Regions from separate parts of the Homo sapiens genome. Here all the other regions are reported to be linked to region 3. The links are microRNA targets in miRTarBase. Many come from high-throughput screens and were not tested one by one. Region 3 holds a microRNA gene; each other region holds the end of a gene's coding sequence.
The links. The annotated mature microRNA hsa-miR-635 reads ACUUGGGCACUGAAACAAUGUCC and lies in region 3 at 1,527-1,549, opposite strand. An mRNA with a match to its seed (bases 2 to 7 or 8) in the 3' UTR can be bound and repressed. Matches are read on the target gene's strand: a 7mer-m8 pairs with bases 2 to 8, a 7mer-A1 pairs with bases 2 to 7 and ends in A, and an 8mer does both.

Region 1 (6,951 bases), not on the chromosome of region 3:
ATCTCTCTCTCTCTCTCTCTCCCTCCTTTCTCCCCATTTCTCTCCCAATTCTCCACCTTTTTACTTTTCCCTTCTATTCTCCTCCTTTTTTTATTGATTTACTTATTTTTATATTGGTACCACATTCACATAGTTAAAAATTCCAAAGCTGTAACAGAGAGAGCACCCTCATGCTCCAGCTACCCCACAGAGGCCAGCAGTGTTACACAGACATTCAGACACCTGTGCACTGATGTGTGTATACTTTTTCTTGCACAGACGGTGGCATTCTTGGAGCATTCTGCACATTGGGTTTCTACGGTATTTCTTAGAGGTGTTTCCACAGCAGCACATACACTTCTAGAGCATGCTTGTTCTTCTGCACAGTGGCCTGATGTGCCTTTGTCTAGGTGCATCTTTCTTTTTTCATTCTCCAAATAATATCAGCTTCTTTCCATAAAATCTGGAAGTGCAAAAATAGGTAAAAACAAGACAGTTCTGCTCTCTGCTCCTTGGAAAGGAAGTCTCTGTCCTCCCTTAGTCTTTCCCTATCCATCTCTTTTTTTCTGTCTCTTCTCTCTCTCTCACACAGCTACGAGTCCTCGGCGGAAATCCTGCCTCATACCCCGAGGCTCACCCACTTCCCCACAGTCTCGGGCTCCCCAGCCAGCCTGGCCGACTCCATGCAGCAGAAGCTAGCTGGCCCTCGCCGCCGGCGCCCGCAGAATCCCAGCGCCATGTAATGCCCAGCGGGTGCCCACCTGCCCGCTTCCCCCTACTGCCCCGGGGCCCAAGGTAGGGCAGACACTGCAGCTCCAGTGCATAGGGCAGGGACCATTGCCAGGAGTAGGCCGCAAGAGCAGCTCCTCCACAACCACCAGGCAGTGGTTGCACCGAGCCATAGGGCTGGGAAGCAGGACAACCCCGAAGCTTCCTGCCCTCACCAGTAATGCGGGGCCCACATCATAGTGGATGGAAATGGCCCTTGTCATGCAGTAGTAGATACTGTTACCATTCAAGGTATATGTATAACCTTAGGCAAGTTACTTTCTTCATCTGTAAGTGGGCACATTCCTGCCTCACGGGGTTTATCTGGTGAGGAAAGATTTGTATTATCTTTGGCATGAACTCAGTTGCTTGAAAAATGAAGCCCATAGAAGAAGCTAAGCCAGGGTGTCTGTCTTCAGAGCAGCACCTTGCCGCTTGCCAGTACAGCAGTGCCCTCACCTCTGGGGCTGAGCTGTTTGATTCATGCTGTGTGCCCTGGGAGGCAGCCTATCTCCATCTCTTGTAGCCTTGTCATGGCCACCCCTTTTTCCACGCTACAGCAGAAGGTTCAGGAAGCTTGAAATCAGCCCACACAAGCCCAGGCCCAACCTCTCTTCCATTGGCTGCTGCCCTTGCTGCCTCCTGGTACCCCCAGGCTCAGAGAAAGCAGAGCAGCCTGCCTGAGGAGGGCATGTGGTAGGGCTGGGGCCAGGCGCTGTTAGGTGCTGGGCAGTGGACACAGGGCTGACGCTCTGCATGTGACCAGGCGCTTTCCTAGGATGGGGGTGGGGGAAGGGGACAACCAAGGTTCTGCTCACCCTCTCCTCTAAATGAATTTTTATTGTTGTTTTTTTTTTTTTGGTCAGTTATGAGGAGTCAAATCCTAAGGATCCAGCGGCAGTGACAGAATCCAAAGAGGGAACAGAGGCATCAGCATCGAAGGGGCTGGAGAAGAAAGAGAAATGATGCAGCTGGTGCCCGAGCCTCTCAGGGCCAGACCAGACAGATGGGGGCTGGGCCCACACAGGCGTGCACCGGTAGAGGGCACAGGAGGCCAAGGGCAGCTCCAGGACAGGGCAGGGGGCAGCAGGATACCTCCAGCCAGGCCTCTGTGGCCTCTGTTTCCTTCTCCCTTTCTTGGCCCTCCTCTGCTCCTCCCCACACCCTGCAGGCAAAAGAAACCCCCAGCTTCCCCCCTCCCCGGGAGCCAGGTGGGAAAAGTGGGTGTGATTTTTAGATTTTGTATTGTGGACTGATTTTGCCTCACATTAAAAACTCATCCCATGGCCAGGGCGGGCCACTGTGCTCCTGGAAGATTCTCTGTTTAAGCACCCAGTGTCTTGCCCTGGGTTTTCTAGGTCTCACCTGCCCACCCAAAATCTTTTCTGCAAGCCCCTTAAGGGTGCCCACCCCAGTGCCTGGCCAGCCCTGCACCCGTAAAACACCTTTTAGCCAGTAGAGGGGGCCCACGAGCCCTCTCTCACCAGCTAGCACTTTTCTCACCACCTTCCTCGAAATACTTGGGGGCAGCAAGGGTGTTGGCAGATGAGAGTCTCCCACTCACCATGGTGAGAGTGGTGGGGAGTACCCAGGGCTGACCTGACTCACAAGGGAAGCAGTAACTGTAGAACCTGCCAGCCTCCCTGGTCCCTGTGCCCATATGGCTTCGGCTGATGAGGGCTCAGACTCTAGGTTGCCCTGAAGATCAAGGCTTTGTCTCCCATTCTGCCCATTCCTGGGTTTCTTCCCAAAATGACTACTGTGGGGCCAGTCATGGCACAAGGGCCAGGACCTCTAGAGGCTGGGGTGGGGAAGGACTGAGCTAGTGATTCTTAGAGGCCTTCTGGGGCCTAAGAGCTGAAATCTCAGCGCCCGGGTTTCCCTAAAGTTTGCTGAAGACAGCAGCCCCGGCCAGCAGGAGACCGACCGGGCACCACCCCAAACCAGGCAAACGGTGGCCACAACCCTCATCCACCCACCTGGTATGAGGTCACTGAGTGGGGAAACAGACAGGAGCGGGTGGCCACCATACTGACAGACCCGGGGCTCTCCCTTGCCCAAGCTTCAGGTTCAAAGGCTGAAAATAACAGTGGCTTCCAGTTTGGAAGTGGCCAAAGGACAATCATGACCAGAGACTCAGGAGTATGACTGTAATACCCTCACTAGGTATTGACATGCACTAAGCACCTTGATATAGGATTTCACTTCCTTCTGAGTCTTGGGCTGTATGTGCTATTATTCGCTCCGCTGTGCAGATGAGGGAATTGAGGCAGCTTGCCCATGGACATCGATTTGACCTTAGCCAAGCCAAACAATTCCAGGTTCCTAAGGACCGCAGCTCCTCCCCAGACCCCTGGGACCAAGTCACTGGCTGGTGTGCTGGGCATCCCTGAGCCCCAGCCACCCAATTTTACTGGCTCCAGGGTTCTATAGGAAGGAAAAGGGGTAGAAAATTTCAAAAGGCTTCTTCCTTTCAGGGAGGGGGGTTCCCTTTCAGGGGCTTCTGGAATCTCTACCCACTCCAGCCAACTCTGAGGCCATGTGGTCCTGGAACAAGGCCCCTCTGAGGCAGATGGGGCAGGCGGCCCAGGCACATAGCATGGTTGGCTCTGCGGCCCAGGGCGCACAAAGGCCTTATTGAGTCACCACCAGCCCCCGGCAGAGGCTGAGGTGGCAGTGGCGCCGAGCGCCTGCCACCTAATGACTGTCCTGGTCCAGCCAGATGTTCCACAGACCTCCGGAGCAGCGGACTAGGGCCCGCCCGGCCAGCCGGCACCGCAGAGGCCACTGTAATTCCAATTAACCAGCTTCAGCTGAGCAAACAGCGGGCAGTGGTGGCCCAGCCCAGGCGGTAGGCCTGGCCCGCAGAGCCTGCGAGTCTAGACTCCAGATGTGAACCGCCACCATCAGAGTCCCATGGAAAAATGGCACCAGGCCGGGCAAGGATTGGGCCTGCATGCTGGGGAGGGGGTGTGGGTGGTTGGGCAGGGCCCCGAGTGGGCTAGATGCCAGCCTCACCTGGTTTGGGGTGGATTATTAGGAAACTGCTCTAGAACCCAAGTTCTACCCTGCTTTATTAGATTCTGTTTCTGTGCCTCAGTCTCCCATGACTGCGACAAGAGAGAGGGTTCCAAGGGGAAAACCAGCCCTGCTGAGACCCCAGTGTGCACTGACTGTATTTCACGTGACTAGCATTATGCTAGTGCAACTGACCCTTGAACAACACAGGGATTAGGGGCACCAACCCATCATGGTCGAAAATCTGTATAACTTTTCAGTCCCGCAAAACAACTAATAGTCTGCTGTTGACCAGAAGCCTTACCTGATAACATAAACAGTCAAAACATCTTGTATGTTATACGTACTACACTGTCTACCATAGAGTAAGCTAGAGAAAATGTAATTAAGAAAATCCTAAGAGCCAGGCATGGTGGCTCATGCCTGTAATCCCAGCATTTTGGGAGGCCAAGATGGGCAGATCAGGAGGTCAGGAGATCGAGACCATCCTGGCTAACATGGTGAAACCCCCGTTTCTACTAAAAATACAAAAAATTAGCCGGGCATGATGGCAGGCGCCTGTAGTCTCAGCTACTCGGGAGGCTGAGGCAGGAGAATGGCCTGAACCCGGGAGGCAGAGCTTGCAGTAAGCCGAGAGAGGCAGGCGGATCACAAAGTCAGGAGTTCGAGACCAGCCTGGCCAATATGGTGAAACCCCGACTCTACTAAAAATACAAAAATTAGCCTGGCATGGTGGCAGGCGACTGTAGTCCCAGCTACTCAGGAGGCTGAGGTGGGAGAATCACTTGAACCCAAGAGGCGGAGGTTGCAGTGAGCCAAGATTGCACCACCGCACTCCAGCCTGGGGGACAGAGTGAGACTCCGTCTCAAAAAAAAAAAAATTATTCAGTGAAAGTGGATCATCATAAATAAAGATCTTCATCCTGGTCTCTGTGTTGAGGAAGAGGAGGGGGTTGGTCTTGGTGTCTCAGGGGTGGCAGAGGTAGAAAAAAAGTCCACGTTTAAGTGCACCTGCACAATTGAAACCCGTGTTCAAGTTTCAAATGTATCTTAAGATTTACTTAATCGTTGTAACAACACTTTGAGGTACCTACATCATTCTTACGATGGGGAAACTGAGGCAGAGACCGTAAGGGCGGGCCCAGGGGGCATGTGAACCCAGAGTGTCTGGCTTCCAAGACTCGTATTCACCGTGGTGCCGTTTGACATGATCAGGATAATGGATCCCTGGTTCCTTTTGGGGGCAGCATTGGAGAAGGGGGTTTGGCACCGTCAGTCTGACAGCAGGGCTGGCTCCTGCAGTGTGAATGAAGCGGTCTTGTGCTCGACTGTGAAGGGGGGTTAGGACCTGCTTCCCAGGGCGGGTCCAGCTTTCTGAGGGAAAGCCTTCAGAGCCTCCATCAGGCCGGCACCAGGTACCAGTTAAGCACTGGGCAGGGAACAGAAGTGGTCAAACGCCGCTTGCCGCGACTTGAAACTGCTGAATAAATGGATAATGTCAAGCGCTATGGCTTAGGGCAGTAGTACCTCCGGTTCCTACGATCGTGTCTGGGGTCCCTGAGGAGCAAGGCAAGAGTCGGCCATTCAGGAGGTCAGAGTTCAGCTGTTCTTGCACAAGCAGGGAAGCTGAGTCACCCCAAACACGGGCAAGACTAGCGGTGGTATCAAATGGCTATCAGGGGCGGGGCCTCAGGGGCCTGCCCCTGCCTCCCCGCCCTGCGTTTGGATTCCCTCCAGCATTCCGGGCCAGGGCGCGGGAGGCGGAGGCCGAGGAGAGGACGGGAGGAGGCTGCATCCTGCCCTGGTGCGTCAGGAAGGGCCGAGCGAGCGGGAAGGAAAGCACCACCCCCCACCCCCGCCGCGGCCACACCTGGGTTCTCCAGGCGGGCAGGGGGGCCCCCGGGCCGGCGCCTGGCTCCAGCAAGTCTGGGCCGCCTCCCCGCGCCGCCCCGCGGGGGCCGCCAGATGGGCTGCCCGCCCGCCAGCTCAGCGACGCAGGCAGGAAACGCCGGCCGGGCTGCCAGGAACGCGCGCAGGGGAGGGGGCGGGCCCGGCCGGGCCACGCCCGCCGGAGGGGAAGGAGGGGCCAAGCACCGCCCGGCGGGGACTGGTGAGCTCCAAGAGCCTGCGATCCCGGTCCCTGCCTTTACTAGATGGGTTTCCTTGGGTAGGTCGTTTTACTTCTCTGTGCCTCACTTTCCCTACCTGTAAAGCGGGGCTGCCTGTCTCCGCTCTTTTTCCCTTTTCTCTTTTATTTGTGCAGCAGGGTTTCACTCTGTCGCCCAGGCTGAAGTGCAGTGGCGCGATCACGGCCCACTGCAACCTCGACCTCCTGGGCTCAAGCGATCCTCCCACCTCAGGTGGGAATATAGGTGTGTCCCACCACGCCTGGCTTTTTTTTTTTTCCCCTAGTTGAAACGGCGGTTCTCACTCTTGCTCAGGCTGGTCTCGAACTCAGGCTCAAGCAATCTTCCCACCTCGGCCTCCCAAAGTGCTGGGATTAGAGGCGTGAGCCACCGCGCCGTGCCTCAGCTATTTTCGTGTGACCGTGTGATCTCAGGACACTTTCTTTCCCTTCTCTTCCTTGGTTTTCTTACCTGAAAAATGGGGTGAACAATTGAACCTCCCTCAACCATGGGCTAAGCCTTTGTTTTCCTCTCCACCGTAGCCCCAACACTTGGCCCATTGCCTGAAACATGAAGGCACTCAGTATTTGTTGTAAGAGTGACTATAAAGGTTTGGGACAATCCTGAGGGCCTGGCTACAGCAGGCACTTCATAAATGGACACAAATTATCAAATTACCTAGAGTCTAATGTTTACCAACCTGCGGCTTCAGGCAAGTGACTTCCCATCTCTGAGCTTCACTTTCCTCGTCTACATAATGGCTGTGAGGATTAAGTAAAATAAATAAATACATGGAAATCACACATAGTGTGTTCTCAATAGATATTTATGGAAGAGTCTCCAAAATATTAAAAAAAGGGAGATACTATTTTGAGTAAATTTGAGGGCAAGGAATATACAAAGGAGTTAGGTGGCTTGGAAGAAGATTTTTGCTATATATGTAAACTAAGCTGTGTGTGGGTGGGTATTTTGCTTGTTGGTTTTTGAGACAGGCTCTCACTGTAGTCCAGGCTGGAGTGCAGTGTGGCAGTCATAGCTCACTGTAACCTTGAACTCCTGC
Region 2 (6,902 bases), not on the chromosome of region 3:
CCCACTGCAGAAGGTTTCCCTGGCCCCAAACTCTCGCTACTACCTGAGCTGCCCCATGGAATCCCGCCACGCCACCTACTCATGGCGCCACAAGGAGAACGTGGAGCAGAGCTGCGAACCTGGTCACCAGAGCCCCAACTGCATCCTGTTCATCGAGAACCTCACGGCGCAGCAGTACGGCCACTACTTCTGCGAGGCCCAGGAGGGCTCCTACTTCCGCGAGGCTCAGCACTGGCAGCTGCTGCCCGAGGACGGCATCATGGCCGAGCACCTGCTGGGTCATGCCTGTGCCCTGGCCGCCTCCCTCTGGCTGGGGGTGCTGCCCACACTCACTCTTGGCTTGCTGGTCCACTAGGGCCTCCCGAGGCTGGGCATGCCTCAGGCTTCTGCAGCCCAGGGCACTAGAACGTCTCACACTCAGAGCCGGCTGGCCCGGGAGCTCCTTGCCTGCCACTTCTTCCAGGGGACAGAATAACCCAGTGGAGGATGCCAGGCCTGGAGACGTCCAGCCGCAGGCGGCTGCTGGGCCCCAGGTGGCGCACGGATGGTGAGGGGCTGAGAATGAGGGCACCGACTGTGAAGCTGGGGCATCGATGACCCAAGACTTTATCTTCTGGAAAATATTTTTCAGACTCCTCAAACTTGACTAAATGCAGCGATGCTCCCAGCCCAAGAGCCCATGGGTCGGGGAGTGGGTTTGGATAGGAGAGCTGGGACTCCATCTCGACCCTGGGGCTGAGGCCTGAGTCCTTCTGGACTCTTGGTACCCACATTGCCTCCTTCCCCTCCCTCTCTCATGGCTGGGTGGCTGGTGTTCCTGAAGACCCAGGGCTACCCTCTGTCCAGCCCTGTCCTCTGCAGCTCCCTCTCTGGTCCTGGGTCCCACAGGACAGCCGCCTTGCATGTTTATTGAAGGATGTTTGCTTTCCGGACGGAAGGACGGAAAAAGCTCTATTTTTATGTTAGGCTTATTTCATGTATAGCTACTTCCGACTGCATCTGTATGAAAATACCAAAACTACATGCGGGGGGGTGGGTGGGAAAGGGAGGGGCTGGGAAGGGATGGGTTGGGGAGCGGGGGTGATCCCAGTCTGAGGCTCCCGGGGATGAGATAAGAGTCTGGAGACGGGCATGGGTTCTTGGAGAGTGGCATGAGCTGGCTCTGCCCTGGGAGCCCGGTCTGAGGGGGACGTTGTTGGAGCCCCTAGTGTTGGGGGTGGTTATGGGAGGGGGTGGGGTGAGGGAAACGGGAGAATGAAGGAGAAAACTGAGCCCTAGTTTCACCGTGTTCATTTGGAAGGACGAGCCGGGTCCTCAGGGGGAGGTTCCAGGACTCTGCCCTTGGCGTTGAGGGTTGGGGGGCGGGGGGCCTCCTCCCTTCCTCTCAGCCCCCTTCCCCAGGGGCTGTGCTTCCATGCTCCTAGCCTCCCACCTTCGCTCAGGACATGTTATAACTTAGGCTAAACTGTGAAAATTCCGGTGGGGATGGCCTGGGCCGAGCTCTCCAGGCAGGCGGCCCTGCCCCCAGCCCTGTCCATCCATTTCAGGGGGGAGCTGGGCCCTTCTCCGGCTGTGTCTGGCCACCCAGGGCAGTGGCTGGGGCCAGTGGCCTTCCAGCTTTGGCCCCTGCACCTCTTCTCAATGCACTTTAATAATGTAACATATTACTAATAAACAAGCTATTTATTTACCTGCGCCTGTTCCTTGCCTGCAAAGCTGTCCTGGTCAGGGGGTGTTGGTGGGGGCTCCTGTTTATTACTCGCCACCCCCTGGCTGCGTGAGCATCACATGCATTCTTTCATGTCCTGGTTAGGGCCCAGGAGCCAGCTCAGCAGGGCTGTAGCTAGTGAGAGGCAGGAATGGGGACCTGAACCCACGACTCCTCAGCAGCGTGCTGCTTGCTCGAGCCTTGACCCCAGAGCCCCAATAGCACGTGCACCCCTTTTCCCCATTCCCAGCCTTCACCTCCCACCACTTCCCCCTGGAAGGCCTGGCCTGGGTCATGCTAGAAACAGCCTCAGGACTCCCTGCCTTCAAGGGGCAGTTCTGGAGGGCAAGCTGATCAAATGCGACCCTGTGGGATGCTGTGGCCTTGAGTGTGTGTGCAGGAGGCTGGTGCCGGCTGAAGAGATGTGGGAATGGGATTTGCTCCAGGCAGGGTAGGGGTCTGGGTGAGGGTTGGAGAGTAGGGAGGGACCTGTGGGGAGGGTTTATGAGTGATGAGGTAGGATTTGAGTTGTAGAAACTCAGGACTCCCTCCAAGATCAAGTAAATAGGTTTTAGAACACAGAAGTTTATGCAGGAAGGAGCCTCTGAGGCTGGGGTGGAAGGATGCAGGGGAGTTAGTTAGGAGGCTGTCTGGTGGCGGGTGGAGGTCAGGATGAGAGCAGTGGTCCTGGGATGAAGGGCAGGGACAGTAGGGAGCACTGCAGATAGAAGTCCAGATAGAAGCCCAGAGGCCTCCCCTCCCCCTTGTTCCCTTCTCTGTCCCCTGTCCCTGGAGGCAAGGACCTAGGCCTTTGGGGTCTGCTAGGCGTTTTTCCTGAGCAGTGACTGCTGGAGGGGTCCATGGCAGACTTGGGGCAGTTTACTTCTCTGTCCGAGCCCAGCTTCTGGTTGGCTCTGGCAAACCCCACAGGACTGGAATTGCCCCCACCCATAGTGCTCCCTCCCACTTCAGTTTGCTCTGCACTCTCATAGCCAGCCCATTCCTGAGGATTCTCCCCATCCTTTTCTCCCCCAACACTCGGCATGCCCTGGGGGACCAAGGTCTCAGCAGGTACATGGGACCAGGGGTCTTTGGGAGTTTGGGGGACCCAGAAGAGCCCTGGGCAGCTGGGGCAGAGACCTGGGGCTGCTGCCACCATTTTTGGCGTTTGTGGTCCTGGGCAGACCCTCGCCTTTCCCGAGCCTCATTTCTCTCCTGTGTAAAAGGCAGGGCTGGACCTGGGCTTCTGTGGACCCTTTCCTGCACATCTCGTCTGTCCCAGTCCGTCTGTATTCCAGTGCACAGCCAAGCATCGGCATCAGGATGGGGGTTTCACAGGCTCCTGCTCAGCAAGCTGGAGGCTGGTGGCAAAGCAAAGGATGGGAGTGAATTCCAGCCCCAAATGGTCTGAGCGGCGAGTGGACAAAGTGTGGGCTTAAGCCTTGGTCCCTCCTGGAGTGCTGCTGGTGGTCTCCACTGAGTTCCCTGTCCTCTCTGGGCCTCAGCAGCCTCCCTCTTTCCAGAGATGCTCCTGGTGCTCTGATGGGTCCATGGCAGGGGATTTGAGTGATGGAACCCACTCCATTGTCTCTGTGGAGGCACCAGGAGAGGCTGGGCTGGGAGGGAAGCCGTGTGCATTAAGGCATGAAATGAGCCCGTGTAAATTCCATGTAAATGAGCTGGCAGGGATGAGGCCAGCCAGGCACAAGCCTCCTGCCCTGTTTTCCCCAATGGACAAGCAGCACAGCAGGCCTCTAGCTGGCGGTGTGTGGGCAGGACGGTTAGGCTGGGCCCGGGTGGTGGGAGGATCTGCTCTAGCCATAACCACACGATATCCACAGTCCCAGCACTGGCTTCTTGAGGGCCAGGCCAGGGACCAGAGCCAGGCCAGGGGCAGGAACCAGGCCCATCCTTCTCCCCTCTCTTGTGCATTCTCGTTGGGGAGGAGGAAGAGGGACGAGACTGAAAGCTCAGCTCTCCTGGGGAAGGCAGCAGGGAACTGCAGATTTCGTTCTGCCTCCCTCCCACTTTAGGAATGTAGAGTCATTACGGTTTATCCCCCATCCACATGTCCTGTCATCCTCTCTCCCCGAGGGAAGGCTGCTGTCCTCTTGTCTCTCTGCTACATCAAATCATACCCTTCCCATCTCTCCTCAGACTTCTACCTTCCTTTGCTGGAACCGCTCTGCATTTGCTCCTGTGATTCCCTCCCCTGGAATGCCAGGAGGAAGATGCTCCCAGGCAAAGATTTCAGAATGACATGGAATTCTCCAGAGGAATCCTGGATCCCCCCTACACTAATGCCTCAGCCTGTTCACTCCTGATCTTTGGGAGGGTGCACCTGGAAGCAAGCTCTGGGGTCCCTGGGGGAGAAGGCACAGCCCCTGCCCTGGAGACACTTAAAGCCTGGTAGGGAAGGGCTGTGGGCTGGACAGTGACCATACGTGTGACGGTCCTAGGTGGGAGGTGGGAGCTCAGAGGAGGAACCTAACCCATTGAGCGGAGTGCTCAGGGAAGGCTTTGAGTAGGGCCTTAGAGGATGTGTAGAAGTTCCCCAGGAGGAGAGTGACTGAATGGAGAGGGAACAGCATTTACAAAGGCCTGGGAGTGTGAGAGGGCCTGGGGTGTTATGGGCTCGCTGGAGTAAAGTGAGCTCCATGAAGCCAGAAATCCTTGGCAGTTTTGTTCACAGCTGTATCTCTAGTACCTAGAACAGTGCCTGGCACATATTAGGTGCTCAGGACATTCTTACTGAATGAATGAATAAGATGAGAGAAGGGAGAGTATCTAGAGGTGAGACTGGATGACTCCAGCAGTTCCCGATCCTGGGAACTAAAGCAAGATCTTTATCCTGCAGACACTAGGGAGCAATTGAAGGATTTTGAGCAGGGGTGGGGTAGATGATAATGATAATAATGGTGAGGATAATGGGAGCCTGAGATCCGTGTTTTCTTACACCCCATCTCTTACACCAAAGACCCACTCCTCACCATTTCCAGGTGTTTCTAGCTCCTTAAATGGTCCAATTTTAGCCTTCTGCTTACTGGAAAAGAAAGTGCAGCCATCCTGGCTACAGTGCCAGACAGGAGGTCTGTAGGCTTGGGCCAGTGGAATGGGGCTGAAATGGCTAAATCTGGCTCGGAAACACTTTTATCTCAATATTGGTTAACTCTGGGAGGAAGAGACCTTGGGAGAAAAACAAAAACAAAATCCACATTCTCAGGGTCACCAATGGCCATGAGTCAGCCCCCACCAAGGGAAGGAGCACAGAACCACACTCGGGAGGCGCTGGCCCTGTTAGTATGCTGGGGCGTTTCTGTAGGGTGGTGTTCACACCAGAACCGCTGCACTCGAACCAAGTCAAGGTCCCAGAACTCTGGCAGTTCTTTCAAGTTGGGCAAAATAAATGAGCTCAGAAGGGCTTAGGTAGAGGTGAACACGTCCTTTGGGGCTGAGCCTATATCATGGTGGGGAAACACATGGCTTGCAGCTTGATTCAGCTGTAGCCTATGCCTGGAGCAGGCATTGCTGATCAATTGTGGCATTCCTTTCCTGAGCTCATATGAGTGATTTTCTTCAGAACTTGCATTCTCTGGGGGCTACTGGGCACTTGAAATAGGGCTCATCTGAATTGAGATGTGCTGTAAGTATAAACAACACACTGGATTTTGAAAACATAATATGAAAAAAATGACCTTAAATTTTTACATCGATTACACTTTGAAATGATAATATTAGAGGTTGGGCGTGGTGGCTCACACCTGTAATCCCAGAGCTTTGGGAGGCTGAGGTCAGTAGATCACCTGAGGTCAGGAGTTTGAGACCAGCCTGGCTAACATGGTGAAACCCTGTCTCTACTAAAAATACAAAAATTAGGTGGGCATGGTGGCGTGTACCTGTAATCCCAGTTATTTGGGAGGCTGAGGCAGGAGAATCGCCTGAACCTGGGAGGCAAAGGTTGCAGTGAGCTGAGATTGCTCCATTTTACTCCAGCCTGGGCAACAAGAATGAAACTCTGTCTCAAAAAAAAAAGAAAAAAAGAAATGATAATATTTCAGATATAAGATATATTTGGCTAGATAACATACAAAAATTAATTCCACCTATTTCTTTAACTTTTTTTGTTGTTGTTGTTTTGTTTTTTAGATGGAGTCTTGCTCTGTAGCACAGAATGAAGTGCAGTGGCAGGACCTTGGCTCACCACAACCTTCGCCTCCCAGGTTAAGCGATTCTCCTACCTCAGCCTCCCGAGTAGCTGAGATTACAGGCGCCCGCCACCACGCCCGGCTAATGTTTGTATTTTCAGTAGAGACGGGGTTTCACCATGTTGGCCAGGCTGGTCTCCAACTCCTGACCTCAAATGATCTGCCCGCCTTGGCCTCCCAAAATGCTGGGATTACAGGCGTGAGCCACCGCTCCTGGTCTTCTTTAACTTTTATCTAGTGTGGCTACTGGAACATTTTAAATTATGTGTGTGGCTCATATTGTATTTCTGTTGGACAACACTGTTACGGAATATCTGCTCTGCGGGGGCAGGGAATTTTGTCTTTTTTTGTTCACAGCTAAATTTCATAGCACCTAGAGTAGCACCTAGCACACAGTAGGTGGTCAGTAAATTATTTGTGGAATGAATGAATGGATCCTCACCAGCATTTCTCCTTAGGAGTCACCAGCAATTGATCAGATGGAACTTATTTGCTACCCCGAGCCTAGCGGATGCTACACCACAGTGCTAACAACCCCCGTTTGTGCTTTCTGACTTTAGAGCTTGTGTCGCTCTCCTGGGACTCTCCTGATACCCAGTGGGGCAGGTGAAAGTGGACTCTGGTGAATGCACTGCTCCGCTGAGGGTCTTCTGAAAGGGAACGTTTCCGTTCCTTCTGATCAGGAAGCAGGGCAGTGTGCAAATGGTATGGAAATCACTTCTTGTGGGTGTTTGCCTATCTAGGGTGCTGGGGATACTTCCAGTCCACTTCCTGACCCCAGCCCTTGGTCCCTAGAGACAAAAGAGGAAGCTCTGGAGACTTTGAGCTCTGGGGGCAGATCGGGGGAACTGGGGCCCCCTTAGTCTTTCCCCAGCGAATGAGGGCTTGTAGCCCAGAGCATCCTCATCTCTCAATTCAGCAGGAGCCTAAAAATAGTCTGCAGTTTCAGCCTCCCCCACAGCCGCCCGCGCCAAGTGGGGCCCTGCGCC
Region 3 (5,000 bases):
CAGGGAAGTGTCAGTATGTGTTCTGAAAAGATCACTAGTGATGACCCGCGTTCTTAAGGCAGCGGCTCACAGAGCTCCTGTAGCAGACTACTCAGGCAAGCCTATGTTTGTTCGTCACTACAAGAGAGGCGATTTTAACCAAGCTGAGACTCCAAGAGCCTTTTGTGGTCCTAGAAGATTTTAAGGAATGTGAGTAAAGATGTGAATTCTGCACAGAGATTTGCAATAGGCATGACAATTCAGAATAAGGAGACAGAGAGGAAGTTCCCTAGCATCCCTCGCTGAACATTTCTGCCAATTCAGGCATGACTGAGATGGGCCATATTGATAGAGCATCCCAGGAGCATGCATGCCTCTGGTCCTTACATGGTGAGATGGAGAAGCCTGCCTGCTACTGAGACAGTGCCTTAGTGGGAGCACTGCCCCTCATCACCATCTACCTGCAGGCTGGAGGGCAGACTGAGAGGTTGGTGGCTGCCACGACACAGCCCTGCACACAGGGGCTGCTTGACACTCACAAGGGTCTAACACCTGTTCTAGGGACCTTGTTCAGTGACCACTCTCACTGGCAGGAAGTATTTCTTGCGTATAAATAAGAATTCCTGATGCAATTTCAACCAACTTTCACTCATTTGGTCCTTAGGAGGGAGAAGAAACAACTGGCTCATGCCCAGCTTCCTGGCACTGAATGGGCACACAGGCCTCAGGACAAACTTTCTTACTGGTTCTTCAATTAAGCACCTCCCCTTTTCCTTTTTACCCCAAATAAATGATCTGCACAAGGTACCTATTATTTTATACAGGTTCTTTGGCAAGGAACTACCTCCTAGATACTAATATCCACATTACCCCAATTCTGTAACTATAAGAGGTTGCAAGGCTTACTGCGATTACAATTAAGAATCTAATAATATTTTATAGTAGTTACAGACTTTTACCAAAATTAGTGAAACGGAACCTAGTGAGTGTCTGGATGTGGTAAACCCTGACAGAGTAGAATGGTCACATTTGTCCCCACGGTGTCTGACCTAGAGTGCTCTGGATCCTGGAAGCCTCGACTTCAGGTAAATAACCACCGCCTCTTGAGGGTGCAGAAGAACGCCCTTTAAGGCCAGTTGGGGCCATGAGAACCCAAAGGTAAAACAACTGGTTTATAGTTAGGCAGCATGCCAACAGAGGTTTTGAAGTTTATAATTAGTATTTTTAAGAACAACTGCTCTCCGCCACTGAGATATAAACTTCACTTGCCAGCCACGTCTCTGACAACCTGCCTATTGAAAGCCAGAAATGTAAAAGCTCACGCTGCGACCGACCCGCAGAGCCGATGTGGGAAATCACAAAACAACAGCCCCAGCCCTGCATGCAGGGCCCCACCGCAGCTTTGTTTTCTAAGCCAAATGTGCTCACTAGAGGGTTCCACGGATCTGCGGGAGAAAGAAGCCAGACCTGCACTCCATCCTTTTACAATTGGAAGCTCAATGGACACAAAACAATGATCAGGAGAAGTTTCCATAACAAAGCCTAATGGACATTGTTTCAGTGCCCAAGTGGCAGCTCCTCTCTGGCTCTAGGAGCTGATGCTCCAAGTCTTGGCCCAAACACTACTTCCGGCCGGGTGCGGCGGTTCACGCCTGTAATCCTAGCACTTTGGGAGGCCGAGACGAGTGGATCACTTGAGGTCAGGAGTTTGAGACCAGCGTGACCAACATGGTGAAACCCCGTCTCTACTAAAAATACAAAATATTAGTTGGGCATGGTGGCGCACATCTGTAATTGCAGCTACTCGGGAGGCTGAGGCAGGAGAATTGCTTGAACCCAGGAGGCAGAGGCTGCAGCGAGCCGAGATCACACCACTGCACTCCAGCCTGGGTGACAGAGCAAGACTCCGTCTCAAAAACAAAACAAAACAAATCAGTACTTCCATCTCGAAATGATTTCAGGTTGACTATCTGGGATGTTTTGACTGAAGCTCACAAGAGCGGTCTATATGTTACTCCAGATGGGAGCCTGAAGAATCAGCAGTTAAGGAAGCCCCAGCAGGCTCTCAGGAGGGAATCTTGTCTTCAGTTCCAGGTGATGGAAGAAGCCACGCCCAGCACTCAGCCAGCCCCGAGGGCCCTAGCTGTGGGAACAGGCTGAGCAGGTTGCTGGGAAACCCAGCTAAAGGTGCTCGGGCAAGCTCCTGCCCTGCACCTGCTGCCCTCCACAGAGCACACAATTGCTTTTCTTTTCTTTTTGAGATAGAGTCTCACTCTTTCACCTAGGCTGGAGTGCAGTGGCACAATCAGAGCTCACTGCAGCCTCGACCTCCCAGGCTCAGGTGATCCTCCCATCTCAGCGTCCCGAATAGCTGGGACTACAGGCACGTGACACCACACCCGGCTAATTTTTTCTTTTCTTTTTTTTTTTTTTTTTTGGTGGAGATGGGGTTTTGCTGTGTTGCCCAGGCTGGTCTCTAACTCCTGGGCTCAAGCAATCCTCCAGCCTCGGCCTCCCAAAGTGCTGGGATTACAGGTGTGAGCCACCGCACCCGGCCACTTGTTTCTTAATGAGTGTCTGCAACTGCTGGGGAGGTGCGGGTCTGCCGGCCAGAGCTGCAGGTAAGTGAGGGTCAAGCTGGTTCACAGAGTGCAGCAACTCAGCTCAGAGTCCTGAACACACAGCCCAGCCCTCTGAAACCATCCCCTCCAGCACAAGGAAGGCAGCATTCTGCAAACGCATCCATGGGAGCCTCAGGAAAATAAGTTTTAGACAAGTCACGTGTTCCTACCTTCCAGGCAGCAAAGTCAGTGCTACAGAAGCAAAGTAAGGGATCGCAGGCCTCTGGCTGGAGGGAGGCCACCAAGACTCCCTGGATTAGTATTCGGTGACTCTAATGCCATCAGGGTTTAGCTCGACACCTAAAGCCTACTCTGTAGGATTCGAAGCACACAGTACAACAAATATCCTATGGCTTTCCAAATACTAGAGCAGAGAATTAGTTGTTATAGATTAGAAAACAGGGAAAGGGACTCTGCCTCTCGTATGAGGCGAAGGTTTCCTTCTAAGCACACAGACTGAGCCGCCCAGTTACGGGTTCCTAATGCTCACAGGAGGAAACTCATTCTCATCATCAAGACACACTGGTCCCGTCGCAAACTCATGTTCAGGAATAACTTCTCCTCGCAGCGCCCCGCCGTCCTCAGAATAACCTGGAAACCAAGAAAGAGACATGAAACAAGCACTGGGGATCTGCTTTTATGCCATGACCTGGCGGGTGGGGAGCGGGGGCTCAAATAAAGGGCAAAGGAAGCAAAGGGGCTGTCTGTCTTCCCCCTGGAGGTACTGTGCCTAGGACAAGTCATAATCCTCACCATCTGCCATCTTTAAGCCTGACCTGCCTTTCCACTTCAGATGCCTGAGGCATCCTACCTCTTTGAATTTTTCTTTGTTGAGGTAGGGTCTCAGTATGTTGCCCAGGCTGGTCTCGAACTCCTGAGCCTAAGGGATCCTTCTGCCTCAATTTAACTTCCTGAGTGGCTAGGACTACAGGCTCTTTGGAAATTTTAGTTTAGTTTTTATTTTTTGAAACAGAGTCTCACTCTTTCACCCAGGCTGGAGTGCAGTGGTATGATCTCAGCTCACTGCAATCTCCGCCTCTCTGGTTCAAGCAATTCTCCTGCCTCAGCCTCCGGAGTAGCTGGGATTGCAAGTGTGTGCCAACATGCCCAGCTAATTTTTCTATTTTTTAAGTAGAGATGGGGTTTCACCATGTTGGCTAGGCTGGTCTCAAACCCCTGGCCTCCAGTGATCCGCTGGCCTCAGCCTCCCAAAGTGCTGGGATTACAGGTGTGAGCCAATGTGCCTGGCCTCATTGGAATTTTTGAAGAGGCAAAGGGTTAACACCACTTGTTAGGAAAAAGACCGTATCGTGTGATGCCTTGCCAGGTTGAGGGTCCCAGGTTTAAAGGCTATTACCATGGCCTCACCTGTGAGAAAATAAAAAATTCAAGGAGAGCACTCCACCCCCAGGTAACAGTGAAGGGGGAAGGGGAGGGAGGGCACTCCACCCCCAGGTAACAGTGAAGGGGGAAGGGGAGGGAGCGTGCAGGGAGAAGGGGAGGGAGGTCACTGTTGGAGATGCTCCCCTGTTGGCCCCGTGTCCACCCACCTGGCACCGTGGAGGCTGAAGATGCACTTGGTCTGGCTACGGTCGCTGCATAAGACTGAGGTAAGGAAGGTCTGAGGTCATTTTCTTTATTCTCTTCTGTTGTTCCTGAGCCAAGCAAGCTACTTGTGACAATCAAGAGGAGGTGAAAGAAAAAAGAAATCATCATATATCTAGGACACCTTCCAAAGGAAAAGCATGAAGAAGCCTGTGCTCAGCTCTGTGGGTTATTTATTTATTTTTGAGGCAGGGTCTTGCTCTATTGCCCAGGCTGGAGTGCAGTGGCGCAATCTCGGCTCACTGCAACCTCCGCCTCCTGGGTTCAAGCGATTCTCCTGCCTCAGCCTCCCGAGTAGCTGCGACTACAGGCACCCACCACAGCGCCTGGCTAATTTTTGTATTTTTAGTAGAGACTGGGTTTCACCATGTTGGCCAGGCTGGTCTCGAACTCCTGACCTCAGGTGATCCGCCCGCCAACTCTGTGGGTTTAAATTGTAGACCTACCCACACGCTGCTGGGCCAGGATGAGCTGAAGTGACCTGCAACTGCCAGGGGCAGTCACACACCGTCAAAATGGCCTCTTTCTCTTACATTGGCTAGACAAAGATTAGTCCTCTGCTCTTCCCAGTACACACAGGTGAGGACATGCTAGCAAGGAGAGCAGCCATCGGTGGGGGGCGGTGGCAGCTCTGGTGCCCTGGCCACAGCAGGAGAGCTCAGTCTGTGCCTGTTCACAGAAGGCATGAGTGCTTTTCTTTTGTTTTCTTTTCTTTTTTGAGACAGGGTCTCACTCTGTTGCCCAGGCTGCAGTGCAGTGGTGTGACCACAGCTTACTGCAGTCTTGACCTTCCTG

Region 1: the mRNA of HM13 is a reported target of hsa-miR-635. The part of its 3' UTR that is shown has no 7-base or 8-base seed match.
Region 2: the mRNA of SEMA7A is a reported target of hsa-miR-635. Seed matches in the 3' UTR shown: 7mer-A1 at 598-604 and 8mer at 668-675.

Annotation. Positions count from the first base shown.
Region 1 is chr20:31,567,507-31,574,457 of GRCh38, forward strand. It overlaps HM13 (histocompatibility minor 13), which reads left to right. Exons shown (of 13, transcript NM_178581.3): 12 at 572-718; 13 at 1,614-2,037. The coding sequence ends at 1,713. HM13-AS1 (HM13 antisense RNA 1) reads right to left here and starts at 5,757. Exons shown (of 3, transcript NR_046853.2): 1 at 5,636-5,757; 2 at 5,293-5,417; 3 at 81-442. It overlaps LOC107985416 (a long non-coding RNA gene), which reads left to right and starts at 5,504. Exons shown (of 3, transcript XR_005647051.2): 1 at 5,504-5,932. RefSeq lists enhancers at 1-33, 5,114-5,655 and silencers at 2,100-2,394, 5,457-6,036.
Region 2 is chr15:74,404,077-74,410,978 of GRCh38, reverse strand. It overlaps SEMA7A (semaphorin 7A (JohnMiltonHagen blood group)), which reads left to right. Exons shown (of 14, transcript NM_003612.5): 14 at 1-1,690. The coding sequence ends at 355. Among named protein-coding and RNA genes, the nearest start is that of MIR6881, 3.9 kb to the left of the region's middle. RefSeq lists enhancers at 1,336-1,595, 1,239-1,739, 4,959-5,058, 5,079-5,148, 5,169-5,218 and 1 more.
Region 3 is chr17:68,422,985-68,427,984 of GRCh38, forward strand. MIR635 (microRNA 635) reads right to left here and starts at 1,564; the gene lies at 1,467-1,564. It overlaps WIPI1 (WD repeat domain, phosphoinositide interacting 1), which reads right to left. Exons shown (of 13, transcript NM_017983.7): 11 at 4,151-4,269; 12 at 3,091-3,191. It also overlaps a transcript of ARSG not described here and a transcript of PRKAR1A not described here.